Regions from separate parts of the Homo sapiens genome. Here region 1 is linked to region 2. A link means that fine-mapping ties the variant in region 2 to the expression of a gene that starts in the linked region. Tissue or cell type: blood mononuclear cells. Region 2 holds a variant in brackets; the other region holds the start of a gene. All regions are shown on one strand. Distances are between the middles of the regions.

What was found. PIP is the estimated chance that this variant, and not a neighbour inherited with it, causes the effect.
Region 1: GPD1L starts here. The variant in region 2 is fine-mapped to the expression of GPD1L in blood mononuclear cells (TOPMed, PIP above 0.99).

What each region holds. Positions count from the first base shown.
Region 1 is chr3:32,105,009-32,107,849 of GRCh38, forward strand. GPD1L (glycerol-3-phosphate dehydrogenase 1 like) reads left to right here and starts at 1,612. Exons shown (of 8, transcript NM_015141.4): 1 at 1,612-1,750. The coding sequence starts at 1,704. RefSeq lists silencers at 1,345-1,754, 1,875-2,014.
Region 2 is chr3:32,172,912-32,175,826 of GRCh38, forward strand. No RefSeq gene overlaps it. Among named protein-coding and RNA genes, the nearest start is that of CMTM8, 64 kb to the right of the region's middle. The variant C/G (reference allele first, on the strand shown) is at 1,258.

The DNA.
Region 1 (2,841 bases), 68 kb before region 2:
TTCAGTAGAGACGGGGTTTTGCCAAGTTGGGCAGACTAGTCTCCATCTCCTGACCTCAGGTGAACTGCCTGCCTCGACCTCCTGAAGTGCTGGGGTTATAGGCGTGAGCCACGGCACCCGGCCTAGGCTTAGTTTTTTGTAGGTACTAGAGTATTTGTTTCTTTAGCCAGAATCCACTGATATTTTAGTCTTCTGGTTCTCAATCTTGGCTTGCTTTTGCAACTACCTCTTGAACTTTAAAAAATTCTGCTCCAGCCTGGGCAACAGAAGGAGACTGTCTCAAAAAATATATGTCAATAAGTAAATATCCTGATGCCTGGATCCCACCATGGGACATTCTGATGTAACTGGCCTGCAATGGTGTCTGGGCATGGGGATTTTTAAAAGCCCCAGTGACTAATATGCAGCAGAGTTTGAGAACCACTGGTTTAAAGGACTTTGTCCTACTCTGACAGCGTCTAGCACAGTGCCTGGCAGAGACTGATGCTCAGAATGAACAAACTAAGATTCTATTTGTCAAGGAGGAGAGCATTGTGTTACTCACAAATGCAAACAAACCACAAGCAAGGGATAAGTCAGGCCCTGGGCAAAGACAATGGTAAAGCAATTCCTGCCAAGTAAGCGTGTGAGGGTGACACCCACTGAATGCAAGCTGTTGTTACCTTTTTCCCTTTATTTTTATGTATTTATTTTTTGTTGAGACAGGGTCTCACTGTCCTTCAGTCTGGAGTGCAGTGGCCCTATCCTGGCTCACTGAAGCCTCGACCTCCTGGGCACATGCAATTCTCCCGCCTCAGCCTCCTGAGTAGCTAGGACTATAGGTGCGTGCCACCATGCTTGGCTAATTTTTTAAATTTTTGTACAGAGGGGTGGGGGGTCCTAATTATGTTGCTCAGGCTGGTCTCGAACTCCTGGGCTCAAGTGATCTTCCTGACTCGGCCTCCAAAAGTGCTGGGATTACAGGTGTGAGCCACTGCACCAGGTCAAGTTTCTATCTTGACTCTAACTAGAAAAGGTGTCATCCTTGAAATGCAGGTACTGTTCAGCCAAATTCCAAAGTCCTCTGAAGATCCAAGTTCTCTAAGAAGTTCAGAGGTGCCAGGCTGTGTCTTGTTTGTGCAAATGAAACAGAGGATGACAAGGTCGGGTGGGCATTTCGAGCTCTGCCCCAAGTCTGGTCGGCTTGAGAGTCAACCTAGGAGCCTCTCTCGGCTCCAAATGGCAATGTGGCAGCCCTTCCCGAGTAGGGAAAAAGGAGCGTGTAGGGGGCACCACGGCAAGCTGGTTGGGTCTGCTCCACCCATGAGGATGGAGTGCAGCCTCCACCGGGAACCAGGGGCGCGAGTCGCTGCTCAGTGGCCTGGGCCTGCATGTGGCGCGGCGGGAGCTGCTGCCTAGGGCCGCGCAGCGACGGGGGGTGAGGACTACATGTCCCGACGTGCCTCGGGCAGGGCGGGGCGGTGCCGGAGCCGGGCCTGGAGGCCGGCCGGGGCCAGGCGTGCGCAGTGGTTCTTGGGAGTGGCGAAGCGGGTCCTGCCCCGCTGTCAGCTGCGGCCCCCGGCGCCGGGCGGGGGTGGCCGCGACCATTGGCGGAGAGGCGAAAGGGGCGGGGCCGCCGCCAGCCGCTGCGGGCAAGGCTGAACAGGCGGAGGTGGGCAGCCGGCCAGGGAAGCACGGTCCAGGCGGCTACATTCGGCCCGGCCATGGCAGCGGCGCCCCTGAAAGTGTGCATCGTGGGCTCGGGGAACTGGTGAGCGGCGGCGGGCTGGAGGCCGGGGCTCCGCTTCCAGGAAGCGCCTCTCCCGGGCGGTGAGGGCTGCGCGCCCCATGCTGCGGCGTGGGCACCGGGCACTGCGCGCAGGGAGGCGGGGTGGGCGACCTCGTTGCTGGGCTGGGCACCGTGCGCCCGAGGAGGCCGCACCGGGGCACTCGCTCGGGAGGCGCTGGGCTCGCGTGCGTGCGGGGGACAGCGCGGAGAGAGGGCACCCCGAGCACGCGGGCACCTGTCTGCGCCCCCGTTACTGAGCGCACAGAAGCCACCTGCTTGCCACGCCTGGGTGTTTTGCACAATATCCTAAGGGCGTATTCCGTTCTCCACGGCGGATCTCCTGGGTCAAGGACTTGGTGGAGGCTCGAGCATTCTTACTGCAGTTTCGGTGTTGAGGAAACCGAGGCGGAGAGGGCTAAAGGGCTCTTGCTGCCCAGGTCACGGGCGGGGCATGCTCTGCCCTTCAAGGTGCCCGTCTCGCCCCCGCTTCTGATAGGTCCACTATCTTAGGCGCGTCGTATCAGGAAGAAAATCCAAGTTTCAACAGGCCGCTCTCCCTGAGGCGTTGAGAATTCTCCCTTGCCGAGATGTTTGCGAAGCTTTGCGTCTCTTTGGGGCCTTATTTGACTTTAACATTTTATAGAGCACATTAGAAATGTCAGTTCTTCTAGTACCCTTAATCAAACGTACACTGTGGGATTCTCTGGTGTGTTTGGGTGAATGTAGAGGTGGGGGTGTGAAGGGGGAAGGAAGCAAAGTGTAGCATCTGGTGTTTCCAAGCCTTTTTTCATTGCTGTACACTCTGCCACATTGGAGGGACTGGTGTACAATAGTTAAGAGTGATGATGTCCTTTCAGTGCTTCTGTTTACCGGTTTTTCTGTGGCGTGACAGGCATCAGAAGTGCTGCAGCAGCTGGTCCTAGGTAGTTGGTCTTAGTTTTACTCTTTCAAGACTTGGCCCAGAAAGTACTTATTGAAGGAAACCTTACCTGGTTCTTCACTTTTCCATCCCAGCAAGGCCAGTGGCCTCTCTCTGTGTCCCTATTGCTGGCCTGCATCACTGCATTATAAGG
Region 2 (2,915 bases):
CTATGGGTATGTCTGTCTGACTCTTCCCTACCCAGGATAACTCTGGCTAAATCCAAATTTGTATATCCAATAGTCCTTCTTTCTCCCTCTCACTCTATTTTTTTTTTTTTTTTTGAGACAGAGTCTTACTCTGTCACCCAGGCTGGAGTGCAATGGCATAGTCTAGGCTCACTGCAACCTCCGCCTCCCAGGTTCAAGTGATTCTCCTACCTCAGCCTCCAGAGTAGCTGGGATTACAGGTGCATGCCACCACACCCGGCTAATTTTTGTATTTTTAGTAGAGACGGGGTTTCACCATGTTGGCCAGGCTGGTCTCAAACCCCTGATCTCGTGATCCATCCGCCTCGGCCTCCCAAAGTGCTGGGATTATAGGCATGAGCCACCATGCTCAGCCTCATCCTTCTTTCTCTAGGACTAATGCCAGCAAGTTCCAGGACTTATAACATGTGCTTAACATCAGAGAAGTCTTCACCAGGTGGTGATGTCCTTAAGATGTCTTCCTCATTTCAAAAGCTTTAAGTTAGAAATGTCACTAGATCTTAGATAAGGCCATATGCTACTTGTAACCTCCTGAAACCTGTCTGTCTGAAACCTGAAGGAGTGGTTCTTCAGCTCCCCCTCAAAGACTTAGGAATTAAACTTGTCTGAATTGTACACATTGTGAGTGAAATAGTGCCACTGGAAAGTACTTTACTGTTGAACTCAATGCACCCTGTTATTTGTCAAATTGGTGTTATTTGACTCGTTACAAATGGAAATGCTTTTATGCTATGATGGAAGTGTTATTTGCATTTTTGTTACTAGTCTTATTTTTAAATAATTTTTCAATAGGTAACACAGTCATTTGGTTCAAAAATAAAGCCTGCTTCCCAAGTAGTTATTAGTTTTTAACAATCTCTTCTAGAATTTCATTTCACACACATAAGCAAAATATATATATTCTCATTCCCTTCCCCATTTCTCTACATAAAATTGAGCTTACTTGATGCATTGTTACACATCTTGCTTTTTTTACTTAACATGACATCTTGACAATCTTTTATATCAGTTATTTTTAATAACTGCATGTTTAACTTTTTACTTTGAAATAATTACGGATTCATAGTAAATTGCAAAGGTACCCTTCACCCAATTTTCCCTAATATATCAACACCTAGTTTTTAAAATTGTAAGTTAAAATAACAGTAGCGAAACACTTTCAGCACTGCTCTTTTTCTTTCTTTTTAGTCAGGGTTTCCCTCTGTTGCCCAGGCTGGA[C/G]TGCAGTGGCTCGATCCTAGCCCACTGCAGCCTCCAACTCCTGGGCTGAAGCATTCCTCCTGCCTCAGCTTCTTCCAATAGCTGGGACTTCAGGCATGAGCCACCACACCCAGCTAATTTCTGAATATTTTGTGAAACCAGGGTCTCACCATGTTACCAAGGCTGATCTTGAACTCCTGGCCTCAAGTGATTCTCCTGCCTTGGCCCCCCAAAGTGCTGGGATTATCGGTATAAGCCACCATGCCTGGCCCACTTTTAGCACTGTTCTAAGTGCTTTGCATAGATGAACATTAATAAAAATGTATCACCCCCATATACAGATGGGGAAACTAAGGCACAAAGAGGATAAAGAACGTGTCCAAATAACAGAGATAGTAATTAATGAGGCCACGTTTTGGACCTGGGGAGTTTGGCTTAAAAGTCTGTGTTCTTAACTCTTAGATAAGACTACATTAACTCCTTTGAGTAATGGGTGTTCATAGTTAAGCAAAAGCAAACAATGATGTGAAGGGTTGAAAGTGTAATCATTCAATTCTTTTGCAGACTTTCATAAATGTACTGTGTTCATGCATGCGATATATTTTAAGACAATACTGTTTTAAAACTTTTTTAATAGTTTTAATATTGAACTTTCTGTATCAATATAATCTCCTACATCATTCTACATATCTGCATCATTTTCTATGACTCTTCCTTAGTTTATTACAGATAAATGTTTGTTTTCTTTTTATTATAATAACTGGTGCAGAAAACATTCTTGCACATGGATTTCTGCTCATTTATATGAGTGAATCTACATCATAAAATCCTGGAAGCGGAATTGCTGGCTCAAAGGTATGTGTGTTCTATACTTTAATGGAAACCGCCAAATCCCCCTTCACAAAGATGGCTGCAATTTATGCTTCTGACCTCACTTTCTGTTCCTAATTACCTCTACAGCCTCTATTAGGGAATTCTTTATAATAACCAGAGACCTAAATTGAACCAAATAAGTCCCAGAAATGTGAGCCTTTGTACTTAATAATTTATGTCTCTCCTGTCAGTTTCACTGTAAAAAATAAAATTTTTTGTTATTCAAAACTACAATTGTGTTAAAGCAGCCATCTTACTATATAGTTGTAATAGTTGGTACTGAAAGTTTTTTTTTTTTTTTTTTTGAGACAGGGTCTTGCTCTGTCACTCAGGCTGGAGTGCAATGGCACAATCTTGGCTCACTGCAACCTCCACTTCCCAGGTTCAAGCAATTCTGCCTCAGCCTCCCAAGTAGCTAGGATTACAGGCACCCGCCATCACGCCCAGCTAGTTTTTTGTATTTTTAGTAGAGACGGGGTTTCACCATGTTGGTCAGGCTGGTCTTGAACTCCTGACCTCAGGTGATCTACTCACCTCGGCCTCCCAAAGTGCGGGGATCACAGGTGTAAGCCACCGCACCTGGCCTTGAAAGTTTTTATAGTCACAGAAATGTTCATGTAAATGAGATGTTTATAACGAATGTTAAAACAAGAAACATTTTTTTAATCACAAATTCACTATTTATTCAAAACCTCTTCAAGCTGTTGTCAAAACAAGCTGAAATGGGGGTAAGATGCTTTTCTGGGAGAGTTCCAGGTTCTAATTAACTATGACCCTTGCCCACTAGAGGTCGCTCTTCGTGAATA